2 separate regions of the Homo sapiens genome follow, and region 1 is linked to region 2. The links come from fine-mapping of genetic effects on gene expression. A gene starts in region 2. The other region holds a variant in brackets. All regions are shown on one strand. Distances are from middle to middle.

Region 1 (8,325 bases), 22 kb before region 2:
CCCCAGCCACCAGCCTCTTCCCTCTCAGAATGGAATCCTTGAAAGAGCTGCCTAGAATCTGGCTCTGCTTCCTCACCACTTGTTCTCTTAGACTCACATTAGACAGTCTTGTGTCACCTTCCACTACCCTGAAGCCATACTTGTCTGGTGACCAGTCACCTCCTACCAAAGCCAGTGACTAATTCTTAGCTTCTCTCACCTCTCAGCAGCATTACATAATTGGTCACCCCTTCCTGAAACACTTTCTTGGCTTCTGACTTTCAGGCGTCCCTTCCTCACTAAAGAACGGATGACCCAGGACTCATCCCTGGAGCTTTCCCCATCTGTGCACACTCCCAAGTGATCTCATGCAGCCTCATGACTTTATGCCCATCTCCATGCCCACTTCTGTCCTTACGCCCTGACTCACAGATTCACAACCTCTTCTCTGAGCTAGAGACTCATATCCAGCTGCCAACTTGAGATCTCTACATGCATGTTAAGTAAGGCATCTCAAAGTTGCAATGTCTAAAACCAGATGCTTTTCCTTCCACAGCTGCTCTTCTTCCAGGCTTCCTTGTTTCAGTCAATGCCACGAGTCACCTAGTGGCACAGTATAACCCTTGGGGTCATTCTGCATACCGTTTCTCATACCCCTCATCCAGCCCACTGCCAGATCAGCTCAACCTTTCAAATATTAATATGTGCTCTTGCCTCCGCAGTCCAATCTACCGTCAGCTCTTGCCTGACCGAATGAAAAGCTTCCTAGTTCTTTCTGGTTCTATTCTTGTCCCTACCAGTCTTTCAACACAGCAGAGTTAACTTTTTTTATTTTTTTGAGATGGAGTTTTGCTCTTGTTGCCCAGGCTGGAGTGCAGTGGCGCAATCTCGGCTCACTGCAACCTCCGCCTCCCGGGTGTAAGTGATTCTCCTGCCTCAGCCTCCCGAGTAGCTGGGATTACAGGCATGCATCACCATGCCCAGCTGATTTTGTATTTTCAGTAGAGATGAGGTTTCTCCATGTTGGTCAGGCTGGTCTCAAACTCCCAACCTCAGGTGATCCGCCCGCCTTAGTCTCCCAAATTGCTGGGATTACAGGCATGAGCCACCGCGGCCGACTGAGTTAACTTTTAAAAAATGTAAACCAGTTCATACTACTGTCCTCTCAGAATTTTCTAGTGGCTTCCCATCACATATAGAATAAAATCCAAGTTCTTCACCATGGCCTTCTAGGCCCTACTCCATCTGGTCTCCTGCCCCATCTCCTACATGCCCCTTGCTTACTCTACTCTGGTGAGACTGACTCTTGATGATACTAGCATGTGCCAGGCTTATCCCCACATCTGGGCCTTTTGCCCTTCGTCTCCTCTGCCCTGTGATACTCTTCTCAGATTGTTGTATGTCATTCATTGACTCCAGGTCTCTGTTAAACTTCTCACTTTCTCAATGATGCCTTCCCTGCTGACCTACTTTGCTTTGTCTCTCTGTATCACATTCGTCACTGACCTGTCACTCCTAATTTTTTTTTTTTTTTTGAGACGGTGTCTCATCCTGTCACCCAGGCTGGAGTGCAGTGGCGTGATCTCGGCTCACTGCAACCTCTGTCTCCCAGGTTCAAGCAATTCTCCTGCCTCAGCCTCCCGAGTAGTTGGGATTACAGGTGCACACCACCATGCCCAGCTAATTTTTTGTATTTTTAGTAGAGACGGCATTTCACCACGTTGGCCAGGCTGGTCTCAAACTCTTGACCTCAGGTGATCCACCCACCTCGGCCTCCCAAAGTGCTGGGATTACAGGTGTGAGCCACTGCGCACGGCCAACTTTATTTAGTAGAGATGGGTTTTCACCATGATGGCCAGGCTGGTCTCCAACTCCTGACCTCAGGTGATCTGCCCACCTCAACCTTCCAAAGTGTTGGGATTATAGGCGTGAGCCACTGTGACCAGCCCATTTGCTTATTTATTACATCCCCTCTCCTAGAATGTAAACTCCATGAGAGCAGGGACTCTGTCTTGGCCACCTCTGTGTATCTCCTATATGTCAGAACAGTAGCTGGCATATGATGGAACGCTGACATGACCTTTCTCTTGCCTCCCCCATGCCCAGAGGTGATTGTGGCCTTGGCTGTATGTGGCTCCATCCTCTTCCTCCTCATAGTGCTGCTCCTCACCGTCCTCTTCCGGATGCAGGCCCAGCCTCCTGGCTACCGCCACGTCGCAGATGGGGAGGACCACGCCTGACAACCACTCAGCCCCCTTCCCTCCACCTCCTAGGGGAGGTGGGCTGGGCCCTCGCTCCTGACTGTTGCTGCTCCCCAGCCCATGGACAGGAGATCCTGGGTTGGGCCTCCCTCTGATGACCCCAGCCAGATGAGCGAGTGGGGCTCAGCGTGGCCCATGGTGCCTGTCACTCAGCATTCCCATGCCTGATGTTTACCAAGTGCTGTGTTGGACACTGGCTTTCTCCAAACAGGATTTGCCTCCTCCACGCTCCCTACACACCTGAGATGTAAACTGGCAGTCAGTGTTCACTCAGGACCTAGGATTAGAAAATGGCAGAGTTGGTGCTGGATCCACCTTGCACTTCTATCAAGCCCTGTTCTTTTTCCTCCAGCCTGAAGTCTTCGGCAAATAGCTCAGAGGGACACGGTCTTGCCTCTCAGTGCTTATTTTAGTGGGAAAAACAGCTAATACCAGGGGTACAAACATTGGCTCCCAAGGAACTGGATCACCCAACAGCCAGCCAGCCACATTTCCCTGTGTCTGGCTAGAGCCACCATTAGACTCAGACAGAATGCTTCAGGAATCGTTGTCACCCCTTCAACTGGAGCAGGACGGAAGGTTGTCTGTACTTGGGAGGGAGTAGGGAGTGGTGGGAAGGGAGTTGCTTGTCACACGAATCAGGAAACTGCTCTCCCTCAGCTGGGCTGGGGTCTCCAGGGACCTGAGCTACATGCAGGTTGTGAGCTGGAAAAGAAAGTTCTAGACTGTGGCCCAGAATAGGGCTGGGGCAGCTCCCAGAGAATGAATAGTGCTGTTTCCTATTGGACTGATAGTGCTGTTTCCTGTGCTTTTTCTTCATTTCTGAGACGCAAGAAGCTCTCTGACCAGGTCACTTCTGGAAGATCCACGCAGAAGCTCAGTCGGTATGGTTTTATTGGCCATATCAAAAGTGAGCACAAATCAAATAACTGCTTGATCCCTCTGCTACCACCCACTGAGAGGAGAAAAGTCATTTAGTTCCAAGATAACCTTGGTTCCAGGCTAGATACAGAGGGGCCCTTGGGACAGCTGTGTCACCAACTCTGGAGCAGTCTCTGGAGGCAAGTCCAGAGCATTAACATAAAAGTGTCCCAGTCCCACAGTGCCCCAGGTCCCAGCACCCCTGCTCCAACCCTAACCTTGGATACTTTTGGCCCTTTAACAAATCGCCACCTCTGCTTGCAGGACTTGATCCCATGTGTGGGCTCCAAGGCCTTGTCTGGCCCACACCTTCTTTAGTGTCTCTCACTTCCGTGTCCTGGCTTCCTCCTGGCTCCAGATGAGAATGTGGTAACCTAGGAAGAGTGAGACCAGTCTGACTTACACTTTCTGTTACCAATCTCTCAGAGCCTGGGGCTGGCCCGCAAACCTACAATTTGGTAAAGAAATACTAGGAAGGCCGGGCGCGGTGGCTCAAGTCTGTAATCCCAGCACTTTGGGAGGCTGAGGTGGGCGGATCACGAGGTCAGGAGACCGAGACCATCCTGGCTAACACGGTGAAACCCTGTCTCTACTAAAAATACAAAAAATTAGCTGGGCGTGGTAGCGGGCACCTGTAGTCCTAGCTACTCGAGAGGTTGAGGCAGGAGAATGGCGTGAACCCAGGAGGCGGAGCTTGCATTGAGCCAAGATCACGCCACTGCACTCCAGCCCGGGGGGACAGAGCGAGACTCCGTCTCAAAAAAAAAAAAGAAATACTAGGAAACTGGACAGTAGCCAGGCATTGCATGACCAAGACAAAGCCAGAGGAATGGAGGGCCTTGGCTATAGAGACCACTGTCTCCCAGCCATCTTCTTCGTGGGCCACTGCCCTGGGGTGAATGTGGCAGGGCGGGGCTGAGGCTGGCCCGCACTGAACCTTGGGAAGTAGGATCGGACTTGGCAAGTCAGAGACATTCTCCTCCTACTCACCCATTGCAGAGGCCAGCGTGTCCCCCATGGGATTGAATTCATTAAGCTGCAGAGACAAGAGTGTCA[A/G]CATGAGGAGAGGGTGAAGGTATTAGCAGAGACACCTGATTTCTGGTCACTTTTGGTCAATAAGGTAGGTTGAATCCCTGCTTCCTCCCATCATTATTTGAGGACCCAAGCCTCACCGAACTGATGCCAGAAGATTCTGGGTCATAGAGCTGACACATCATCTTCCCTGAGTTTCCATCGAACACGTCGATCGTCCTCAATTCATAAGGGGTACAACTTTTGAAATTAGGATCTGGGTATCGGCCCACAACAATGAGGTTGTAGCGAGGATGCCAGGCTGCCTAGGAGATGGAGAGGCCGGCCATGAGGGTAAACACAGAACATGATCAAGGGGGACATCAAAAACAAATATGAACAAAGAGGAACATCAAAAGTATTCTTTGGGCTGAGTGCAGTGGCTCACACCTGTAATCTCAACACTTTGGGAGGCTGAGGCAGGCGGATCACGAGGTCAGGAGATCGAGACCATCCTGGCTAACATGGTGAAACCCCGTCCCTACTAAAAATACCAAAAAAAAAATTAGCTGGGCGTGGTGGTACATGCCTGTAGTCCCAGCTACTTGGGAGGCTGAGGCAGGGGAATCACTTGAACCCGGGAGGCGGAGGTTGCAGTGAGTGAAGATCATGTCACTGCACTCCAGCCTAGGTGACAGAGCAAGACTCTCAAAAAAAAAAAAAAAAAAGTAGTATTTGCCAGTAACAAGCCAACCTAATAATGGAGATAAGTCTTACAGAAAACTACAAGAATGGTTTTAGGTTGTGTGTGCCTCTGCCATTGCACATTTTTAATCCCTAGCTGGCCTCCCTGGCCCTTAGGGCACCTTCAGGCCTTCTCCCTCATTTGCATTTCCTAAGATCATACCAACTGGTAAACGTTTTAACATCAGCCTGACCCAGATACTGACCTAAGAGGCCTACAACAAAGCAGAAAAAGCCTCTGGTGACCAAACCCTAACAGGACTTGAGTTCTGGAGGAGCCCCACTGTCATCCTGTCTCCATCAACACGAATAACTAAGAGCTGAGTGTAAAATTGCTAATGGCTAAAAAAGAGAAGGAAACCCACATTCCCCAGATCACCCCACTAAAAACAAATCTGGCAGTTATTAAAATGGCAGAATTGGATGGGATTTTCCTAAACTTCTCAAGGAAGTTTTGAAGGAAGAAAGACATGGTTAGCAGGAAGGAAGAAATAGTACATGCGAAGGCTTAGAAATAAGTCACAAATCACACACAGGAAGCTGTAATGACTTACGACACCTGGCTAGATACAAACTGGGACATGCAGACAGATGGATTATCGGGAACACTGATGGATTAACAGGAACACCAACTGGGGAAGGATTCTTGACATTATTTATTAAGAGCTTGGATGTGATTGAGGTACGTGGGGGCCACTCAATATTCAATCATCATTTATTGAATACTTACCAGTACTTACCAGGTGCTGGGCATGGGGCCAAGTGCTTTAAGTATACTGACTCATCTTCACAACAACCCTATCAGTTAGAGACTAGTATTCCCTTTTTGCAGATGAGGAAACAGATCCAAAATATAAGTAATTTGCCCAAGGATTCTAACCCGGGGGGTCTGGCTGCTGGAAACTGGCGCTCCCCACCACTATTCTGAACTGACCAGAGAAGTATAGGCATAAAACCTGAAGATCTGAAGAGGATCTGTAGTTTTGGAAAAGAATGCAGAACTAGCAGAGCTCAGTCTGCATGGGGGCTTAGGCAAAAAGGCATCAAAGGACTTGAAAGCTATTAGTGTTGGGGACTAATGATAGAGAAGCTATTAACAAGAGCCTGAGAAAAGGTGGGAAAATAAAAGACTTATTTTTATTATTAGAAGCACTGAAACCTGCAAGACAAACTAAGAAGGCAAAGTTGCCAGGCGCAGTGGCTCATGCCTGTAATCCTAGCACTTTGGGAGGCCAAGGTTGGGGGATGGCTTCAACCTAGGAGTTCAAGACCAGCTTGGGCAACATGGCAAAACCCCATCTCTATAAAAAATAAAAAAATTAGCTGGGTATGGTGGCGCATACCTGTAGTCCAATCTACTTCCGAGGCTAAGGCGGAAGGATTGCTTGAACCCAGGAGGTTGAGGCTGCAGTGAGCTATGTTTGTGCCACTGCACTCCAGCCTGGGTGACAGAGCAAGACCGTTTCAAGAAAAAAAAAAAAAAAAAAAAAAAGGATCAGCCTGGGTAACACAAGAATACCCTGTCTCTACAAAAAAAAAAAAAGTGAGGCAGGAGGATCGCTTGAGCCTGGGAGATCAAGGCTGTAATGAACCATGCTTGCCCCACTGTACTCCCACCTGGGTGACAGAGCGAGACCCTGCCTTAAAAAAAATAATAAAAAAATAAAAAATGAAGGTTTGTGGGTCAACTGTACACAGGTAACTGAAGCTGAGAAGACAGAACAGAGGGTCAGGATCTTAGAAAATTCTCACAGTGAGATCAGAGCTGGGCTGAAAAAACTCAGAAAAATATCTTATCAGCGAGACAGAAAACTCAACCATATGGGATGGCAGAAGTGGGATAAAAGGAAGAGAGAGAGCCAATGGGTAAGAGATGCTCTGTGCTCGGGCCAGGAGCGATCTGGGGTGGCAGGCTTACCACATCAGCCCTTCCCCACTGTGGGCAGACCTGCTCCGGCCTCATGATCACAGCCTCCTTCTGCGAGCTCCTTCCCACCGCCACTCACCTTGATGGGTGTGAGGTGCTGGAAGTGACGGTGAGGGTGCGGGATCAGGCCCAGGGGGCAGTCCCACTGGGAAGCAGAGTAAACTCGGATCTCGCTCTTCTGGTCCGTGGTCAGGAGCCGGGCTCCATCGGGACTGAAACAAGCTGGCAAAGTGAAAAGCCCCTGAGCTGAAGGAACCACAAGCCCTCTGTGGTCCTGGCCTTGCAGGCCTTCTCCTGCAGGGGTACTCTCCCTCCCACTCCTCTCTAGACAGGAGCGGAAAGGAAGAGGTGAATCTGGGCTGTGAACAACAACAAAAAAATTCTGGAAACTCAGCAGCTGATGGGGACAGCCACAGCCACAAAGGTTCCCAGACATCAGCTTGGCAGACGCTATCAGGGGTAAAGGTTTGACGTAGTGGCTTCCACACTGAGGGAAAACCCCAGCAGTGGTCAGACAGGCAGGGTCTGCAGGAGAGATGAGGTCTGGGATATCACACCTGCGTTGACAGGATGCCTGTGCGGCAGCGAGTAGAGGAAGCTGGCTTTCCCTCTAACCTGGCGCAGGTCCCAAATTTTCACTGTTTGATCTACGGAGGCTGTGGCCAGGAACCAATCACAGCATGGGTTCAGGGCCACATGCGTCACTTTCTTTTTGTGCATTCTGAGATTCCAAAGCTGCAGAGAAGAGCTCGGTTCAGGTGGGGACACAGAACCGAGGTGGGGGTGAGGGAGGGAAAGGCAGGACCTCGGAGAACGCACCTCTTTGCCGTCCATGTTCAGCAGGATCACGTTCCCCACGTTGTCTCCTGTGACCACCATTCGGCTACTAGCAGACACATCCAGGCTACAAAACCAGATGCTGGAGGGAGAGACTGTGTTGTAAGATTCTTGGGGACAGAGATAGTCCTATTTACTCACTGTTGCCGCTCCGGTGACTAACCCACAGCGGGCATTCAATAAATATTTGTTGAATGAATGAATAACTGTCTTGCCGTGGATTCCTAGTGAGGAACATTCAGACTGCTCTACCGTCCAGACAGAGGGGATGGGATAATGGGGCTCAGAAATCTGTCTGGTTATGGCTGGGCCCAGGATCCCCAGCTCCTAAAAGTCCCTGAAGCAGACAAAGCTTATACCATAAAGCAAGCCCTGAGGCACGCCTGCCCCCCACACCCCGGGTTCTGAGCAAGCCTCCTTTACTGCTCTCTCCTTTCACTCTTCACCCTTTAGGCCAAAGGAGACACAAGCCAAAGAGGGATTGCCTGGCCCTGTTCCTCAGAGCTGGCTAGAAAAGCACTTCTGCCCCCTTCTGAACACTGGGGGAAAAAACACAACCAGGAGCTCTTCTGGTCCCTCAAACCACTGGACTGGGAGGCTGACTAGGAGGGTGCTTCAGGGATCCTGCTATTCAGCCAGAAGAGC
Region 2 (8,325 bases):
CAGTGGCTCACGCCTGTAATCCCAGCACTTTGGGAGGTCGAGGCGGGCGGATCACGAGGTCAGGAGATCGAGACCATCATGGCTAACACGGTGAAACCCCATCTCCACTAAAAAATATAAAAAAAGTAGCCGGGTGTGGTGGCGGGCACCAGTAGTCCCAGCTACTTCGGAGGCTGAGGCAGGAGAATCGCGTGAACCTGGGAGGCGGAGCTTGCAGTGAGCCGAGATTGCGCCACTGCACTCCAGCCTGGGCGGCGGAGTGAGACTCCATCTCAAAAAAATAAACAAATAAATAAATAAAGAGACCTCCTCCTGGGTTCCCCCTCATGTCTACCTTTAAACCAGAGCTAGAAAAATAGTGGACTGAAGCAGAATTCGGCTGAGACGTGTGTTTAGTTTCATTCAGTGCCAATATTAAGACGTTCTAGAGGCCCAGCACAGTGGCTCAGCCCTGTAATCCCGAGCAATTTGGGAAGACAAGACAGAAGGATTGCTTGAGGCCAGTAGTTTGAGACCAGCCTGGGCAATATAGAGAGACCACATCTCTAAAAATTAGCCAGGCATGGTGGTGCGTACCTGTAGTCCCTGATACATGGGAGGCTGAAGCCGGAGGATTCCTTGAGTCAGGAAGGTGGAGGCTGCAGTGAGCTATGGTTGTGTCACTGCACTCCAGCCTGGGTGACAGAATGAGACTCAAAAAATAAAAATAAAAAAAAATAATGAAGTTCTGGAGACTGCTTACACAATTTACCCAACGCCATTGAACTGTGCACTTTAAAATGGTTACGAAAGTAAATTTCATGTTATATGTATTTTATCATTATTTTTTAAAAAGTTGGCTGGGGGCGGTGGCTCACGCCTGTAATCCCAGCACTTTGGGAGGCCGAGGCAGGCAGATCACAAGGTCAGGAGATAGAGACCATCGTGGCTAACACGGTGAAACCCCATCTCTACTAAAAATACAAAAATTAGCCAGGCGTGGCAGCATGCACCTGCAGTCCCAGCTGCTGGGGAGGCTGAGGCAGGAGAATGGCATGAATCCGGGAGGCGGAGCTTGCAGTGAGCCAAGATTGCGCCACTGCACTCCAGCCTGGGTGACAGAGCGAGAGTCCGCCTCAAAAAAAAAACACTTTTAAATGGTTAAGGTGATACATTTTATGTTACGTGTATTTTACAATTTTTTTTAAAACTCAAGATATATGACATTTAAAAAATGAGGATTTGTGTCTTTGTTTGAGAAAAATCACATCTGATATCAAAAGACCTACATTTTTGCACAACAGTCATCTCTAGTTTACCCCTGACCCTACCACCATACATTCTTTTTTTTTTTTTTTCCACTCTGGCTTCTGGAGCCCTATAAGTTTGTGACTCCTGCTCTAAACCCAGTGTCACTTTTCACAGCACAGCCCTCCAATGTCAGCCACCAGCTGGGCTGGCTAAAGGTCCTAGAGGGGACGACACACTCACCCCTCAGCAATGGATGATAAACTCTAGCACAACAAAGACCATTCCCAAGAACTCTGTGCCAAACCTCACCCAGTCACACTATGTCTTTCCTTCTTTTCTCTCCATTTATCTAATACTGCTCCTCCTCGCTCATCCATGGAGTCTTCTTTATTGACTCCAATTCACAAGGGGTTCTTCCTTCTTTCACATTCTGTAGCACTTGGCATCTGTATTGTTAATTACCTCGTATGTATACATCCCATCTGCTCAATTACACTTCAAGCCCCTCACTCATTCAACAAATATAAAGCAGCTACTCTAGGCCAAACTTTGTTCCAGGCACTGGGAATAGGATGGTGAACCAGAAAGGAAAGGTCCCTGCCATCAGTGGGCAAACATACAAATAAGCATCAGATCTCAGACACCCATCAACACTTGGGGGAAACATGAAGCAGGGTAATGATACAGGGAATGACGGTGGAGGAGTGGGATCTACGTTATGAGTAAGGACAACCAGCGAAAGCCTCTTTGAAGAGGTAGAATCAGCAAAGACCTGCAGAGAAGACGCCAGCCATGAGAAGACCATGGGGGAAAAGCACTCCAGTCAAAGGGAACAGCAATTACAGAGACCCGGTTTCAGGAATAGAAACAGCTGGTGTGGCTACAGCATAGAAGTGAGAAAAGACAATGGCGTAAGATGAGGTCAATGTGGTAAGAAGGGGCTTCAATTCTTTTTTTTTGAGATGGAGTCTCGCTCTGTTGCCCAGGCTGGAGTGCAGTGGCGTGATTTCGGCTCACTGCAACCTTCGCCTCCCGGGTTCAAGCGATTCTCCTGCCTCAGTGTCCCAAGTAGCTGGGACTACAGGCGCACACCACCACATCCAGCTAATTTTTTGTATCTTTAGTAGAGACGGGGTTTCACCATGTTGGCCAGGATGGTCTCCATCTCTTGACCTCGTGGTCAGCCCACCTTGGCCTCCCAAAGTGCTAGGATTACAGGCCTGAGCCACTGCGCCCAGCCCAGAAGGGGCTTCAATTCTATGGGTGATCAATAGTCTATATCTTCTAGTATTTTAAGGACAGGCATTAGAAAAATATATATCATCATCATTTACGTATTTGAAAATGCCCACAGTTAATTTTGATCCCAGTCCTCTTCCTGATGATTACTGGATGACATCAATATTCCTTTCATGCCTTCAACAAACACTCCTTATTTTTATTTTCTTTTATTATTATTATTATTATTATTTTGAGATGGAGTTTCACTCTTGTTGCCCAGGCTGGAGTGTAATGGTGCAATCTTGGCTCACTGCAACCTCTGCCTCCCGGGTTCAAGCAATTCTCCTGCCTCAGCCTCCTGAGTAGCTGGGATTATAGGCGCCTGCCACCACACCCAGCTAATTTTTGTATTTTTAGTAGAGACGGGGTTTCACCATGTTGGCCAGGCTGGTCTCAAACTCCATACCTCAGGTGATCCACCCACCTTGGCCTCCCAAAGTGCTGGGATTACAGGTGCGAACCACTGCACCCAGCCAACAAACACTTCTTTAGCACGACCTGGCATGGGGAACTGCTCACCCCTTTGATGAAGGTGGGTTTGTCCTTGATGCCAAAATTCCAGAGCATGATATCTCCCCCTTTGGAACCCACAGCCACGGTGCTGGGGTGAGTTGGGTGCCACGCCAAGGATGTAGCCCTCCTGTCAAAGGGGGCAGCCTTTTGTAATATCCGGTAAGAATCCAGAGTGTGCAAAAAGGACTGCTGGAGCCCCTGCCACAGAGAGAAATGAATTAGGTTGAATTAAAACCCAAGTTCTGGGTAAACTGCCAATCTCTGCCTCCTTCATGGATGAGCCCTAGATCCAAGTCCTCCCACCAAAGGAAAGCTAACTGCCTGCCCTGTGCATGAAAATATTTGCAATGTACACGAACGAATAATCTTGGAAAGCAAAAGGGGCAGAGTGCATTCCAGCTGGGACCTTTACAACATAAGACATTTTTTACCTGGCTGAGTGCCCAGTAGGCCAGTCACCACAGTCTGGGTGATCGGACCACTCTGACAAGCTGGTGAACCAAGCCATCATCTAATTTGGGAGCATGCAATAGTAAAAATGCACGTGTAAACCCTTGAGGACTTGAGGCAAAAAATGCCTTACCTGCTGGACAGATGGCCAGGAAGCTCTGCCCAGCTTATGCTGGTGGAGGGTCCTGACGATGCTGCGGCATGGTGGCAGGATCTGTGGGCCAGCCAGCCCCACCCAGAGGCAGTCTGAGTCACATCTTCTGCTAGGACCTGCCAAGCAGAACAGACATATTTTCCTCTCCAATCTCACGAAAGGTTTTTCTGCTGAATTCCCCGAAAGGAAGCCTTGTTTCATTCGGCACGGTTAATCTCTGTCTCATCACCTCCTGCGGCCTTTCCATGTCTGTGTGGTCTCAACGAGCACCAGAAATAAAAAAATGAGTGAGGATTTGGCCCCTTCCCCAAAACACTCCCACAAACAGTAAGTCTGAAGTGAAAGTAAATACAGTCGTGCAGGGTTCCTGAGACCCCAGCCAAAGAAACACACAAGGATAAAGTACAATGCAGAACTCTTCCCAGTTTGGGCTGCAAAACTCGAGATGGGACTGGGTCACAATTTTATAAATCACATATAATGCACAATAAAAAGATTTTAGGGCAGCATGGCAGAAGTCACCGTTTAGGAAAAGAAGGAATAGGAAGGCCTGGAAATGCTCTTAACTAGGTTACTTCTGGGGAGGTAAGTGAAATTAGAATAGCAATAAAGCAACAACTCCTGATCACCAAACTGTATTTGAGGACCCAATCACTATAGGTCCGACGTCTTGACAACCAATTCTTTCTTCTCATGGACAAAAACCACTTGATTAACAAGCCCCAGCTCGTTTTTGAGTGTCTCGAAACTCCTTATAGCCCCAGGTTCAAGCCCCAGTAAACCTCAGAGAATGAGCTTTCTAAGGAGGAAGGAATTGGGGGCTCTCACAACTGACCACCGAGGACGTGCAGCTAACAAGCGTGACTATGAAATCCAGCACACACAGCGCCAGGAAAGGTAGGATTCTCTGAAGCCGTCCTAACTGTGCAAGAACCCTGATACGAACAAGGAATCTGACAAGTCCGTGTGTCTGTTGTTACGGAGCTCATCTGCTTCCTGTTACCTAGCGGGAGAGGTGTTGAAACCTAAACACTCTGGTGTCAAAGGACCTGCAGGTAGAATGCACAGCCGGAGGCACCCGTGACCTGCGCGGGCCTCGGGAGCCTCGGAGCACCCATCCCCCGCTGCAGCCTCCTGCGCGAGCACCCTAAAAGGCGGAAATATTCAAGCAGCAGGCACAGGCAGTACCGGAGCCCTTCGCACAGAGCTTCTTGGCCTCGGGCTCCAGCTCCAGGGGACTCCTGCTCCTCTTGTTCCTGGGGCGTAATACAATCTCGGAGGTCTTCTGGGTTTCTGGGCGTTTCTTGGGAGCCATCGCGTCCTCCGTGTGAAGGGGTACTGTGCTCTATGCGAAGATCATGGAGGGAGGATTGAGAGGCCTCTGGGGAGAAACAAGGCGGGGACTACAAAACTGCGGGGCCACAGGTAGCCGAGCTAAGCCAACTTCCCGCCAAACATGCCCAGGGCTTGTTCAAACCAGCTTGGAGCTCCGGCCCCACCCGTCTCGGAGACCCCGCCCCTTCCTGGAAGGCGGGGGCGCGGGGAGGGGGTGGTGCCAAGGGGCGGTGCCAGCGCTCCCGGGAGGGGCGGGAACTGCGCCAGGGCCAGTGCCAGCCCGGGTCAGCTGACCTCCCTGGAGCAAAGATGGTCCCCGGCTTTATGGATTTTTTTTTTTTTTTTAGCAACAGGGTCTGGCTCTGTCGCTCACTCTGGAGGGCAGTGGGGCGATCATAGCTCAGTGCAGCCTCCACCTCCTGGGCTCAAGCGATCCTCCCACCTCAGCCTCCTAAGTAGATGGGACTACAAGCGTACGCCACCACGCCCGGCTAATTTCTCTCTCTCTCTCTCTTTTTTTCTTTTTCTGGAGAGACGGGGTCTCGCTTTGTTGTCCGGGCCGGTCTTTAACTCCTGGGCTTAAGCGATCATCCAGCCTTGACTTCCTGACACGAACCCTCCTCAAACGCGGCGCTGCCAGGCCTCTGCGGGTCCGGGGAGGAGGCCCGGTGCCAGCCAAGGCTCTGTCTCCCGCCTTGCAATTGGTGATGACGCCCGCTCGGGCTTTGGGATTGGCTGGTCCCTACAGGGTGTAGTTGGGGAGTGGCGGCTTTGTAGAGAGCTAGTGCCTTTCCTAAGTTAGAAGCTGGGCTCTACCAGCGGTCAGCTTTGCAGTCGGATTCCAGAAACTACAGTCCCATCGAATCCAAGCTGCTTCTCTGTGAAGGGAGAATGATTGGAACTCCTTGCCTTTTTTTTTTTTTTTTTTTTTTTTTCCTAGAGGCAGTGTCTCTCTTCCGTTACCCAGGCTGGAGTGCAGTGATGTAATCACAGCTCACTGCAGCCTTGACCTCAAGTTTCACTGATCCTCCCACCTCAGCCTCCCAAGTAGGCTTGCAGACCTGTATCCCCAAGCCTAATTTTTTTATTTTTATTTTTGTAGAGACAAGGTCTTGCTATGTTTCCCACGTTGGTCTGGACCTCCTGGGCTCAAGTGATCCTCCTGCCTCTGCCTCCCAAAGTGCTGGGATTACAGGCATGAGCCACCGTGTCTGGTTCTCACTGCTCTTTTATTTGTTTGGTCGTTGGCTGTTTTTATTTTTTCTTTCTTTCTTTCTCTCTTTCTTTTTTTTTTTTTTTTTTTTGAGACAGGGCCTCTCTCTGTCACCCAGGCTGGAGTGCAGTGGCAGGATGTGGGCTCAATGCAGGCTGGACTTCCTGGACATCGATCCTCCCACCTCAGCCTCCCGAGTAGCTGGGACTACAGGTGCGCGCCGCAACACTCAGCTAATTTTTGCATTTTTTGTAGAGACAGAGTCTCCCTAAGTTGCCTAGGCTGGTCTAGAACTCCTGGCATCCATCCACCTCGGTCTGCCAAAGTGCTGAGATTACAGGTGTGAGCCACTGTGCCCAGCCTCCTCACTGCTTTTTTTTTTTTTTTTTTTTTGAGACGGAGTCTCACTCTGTTGCCCAGGCCGGAGTGCAGTGGCACAATCTCGGCTCACTGCAATCTCCGCCTCCCGGGTTCAAGCGATTCCCCTGCCTCAGTCTCCGGAGCAGCTGGGACTAGAGGCACACACCACCACGCCTGACTAATTTTTTGTATTTTAGTAGAGACAGGGTTTCACCATGTTGGCCAGGATGGTCTCGATCTTCTGACCTTGTGATCTGCCTGCCTCGGCCTCCCAAAATGCTGGGATTATAGGCGTGAGCCACCATGCCCAGCCTCTTGGCCTCTCACTGCTTTTAACTAAGACTTGCCTAACCTGTTGGGTGTCCACCTAGGAGCAGCCTGGGACGTGATGGGCCAGAGGGCGTGCAGCCAGCGGTACTTAGAACTCCTACGCCCTCGCTTCAGCCAAAGTCCAAGTCTTGAAGGTTCACAGGTGAGGCCGCGCTGTCCTGCCTAGCCTGAGAAGAGACAGTTTGGATGCACCCTAGTTTCTGCGAAGAGGCAGGCAGGAGTTGGGCTTACTCAGGCATTGCTGGGCCTTTCCTCCACCCACTAAGCCCCGTGCCTGACAGTTTGTGGGGGTGGGAGGAGATATACAAAAATGCATTAATGGTAGGCCATCGCATTGGCTCAAGCCTGTAATCCCAGCACTTTGGGAGCCTAAGGCAGGTGAATCACTTGAGGCCAGGAGTTCAAGACCAGCCGGGCCAACATGGTGAAACCCTTTCTCTACTAAAAATACCATCAGGCGCAGTGGCTCATGCCTGTAATCCCAGCGCTTTGGGAGGATGAAGCAGGCAGATCACTTGAGGTCAGGAGTTCGAGACTAGCCTGACCAACATGGTGAAACCCCGTCTCTACTAAAAATACAAAAATTAGCTGGGGCGTGGTGGCACTTGCCTGTGGTCCCAGCTACTCAGGAGGCTGAGGTAGGAGAATCGCTTGAACCGAGGAGAGGGAGGCTGCAGTGAGCCAAGATCATGCCACAGCATTCCAGCCTAGGCGACAGAGCAAGACTCCAACTCAAAAAAATAAAAATAAAAATAAATAAATATAAAAAATTAGCTGGGCATCATGGCACGCACCTGTAATCCCAGCTATTCAGGAGGCTGAGGCAGGAGAATCACTTGAACCTGGGAGGCAGAGGTTTCAGTGAGCTGAGATAGCGCCACTGCACTCTAGCCTGGGTTACAGAGTAAGACTCCATCTCAAAATAAACAAACAAAAAATAATAATTTGTTTAATGCATTAATGGTAGATCCTACTCTCAAGGATTTTTCAGACAGATAGGGACAGAAGATGTTACCAAAATCAACTCTTGGTCCAGTGTGGTGGCTCATGCTGGTAATCTCAGCACTTCGAGAGGGCAAGAGGATAGGATCGCTTCAGCCCAGGAGTTGGAGATCAGCCTCAGCAATACTGAGACCCCTGTCTAAAAAATTAGAAAATACACAACTTAGCTAGGTGCGGTAGCACACGCCTGTAGTCCCAGCTACTTGGGAGGCCAAGGCAGGAGGATCGCTTAAGCCCAGGAGTTTGGGACTGCAGTGAGCTACAATTGTGCCACTGCACTCCAGCCCGGATGACAGAGGTTTACCCTGTTTCTAAATAAATAAATAAAAATTGGCCAGGCGCAGTGGCTCACGCCTGTAATTCCAGCACTTTGGGAGGCCGAGGCGGCCGGATCACCTGAGGTCGGGAGTTCGAGACCTGCCTGACCAACATGGAGAAAACCCATCTCTAGTGAAAA

What was found. PIP is the estimated chance that this variant, and not a neighbour inherited with it, causes the effect.
Region 1: its variant is fine-mapped to the expression of DDB2 in prefrontal cortex (BrainSeq, PIP 0.95).

The regions. Positions count from the first base shown.
Region 1 is chr11:47,234,010-47,242,334 of GRCh38, reverse strand. It overlaps DDB2 (damage specific DNA binding protein 2), which reads right to left. Exons shown (of 10, transcript NM_000107.3): 5 at 7,663-7,762; 6 at 7,401-7,578; 7 at 6,923-7,065; 8 at 4,334-4,498; 9 at 4,152-4,197; 10 at 3,118-3,535. The coding sequence ends at 3,486. ACP2 (acid phosphatase 2, lysosomal) reads left to right here. Exons shown (of 11, transcript NM_001610.4): 11 at 2,086-3,033. The coding sequence ends at 2,219. Among named protein-coding and RNA genes, the nearest start is that of ACP2, 11 kb to the left of the region's middle. The variant A/G (reference allele first, on the strand shown) is at 4,218.
Region 2 is chr11:47,211,755-47,220,079 of GRCh38, reverse strand. It overlaps DDB2 (damage specific DNA binding protein 2), which reads right to left and starts at 5,106. Exons shown (of 10, transcript NM_000107.3): 1 at 4,817-5,106; 2 at 3,608-3,744; 3 at 3,031-3,222. The coding sequence starts at 4,943. RefSeq lists enhancers at 4,774-5,053, 4,343-5,542, 5,384-5,623, 4,830-5,665, 5,666-6,502 and a silencer at 5,104-5,313.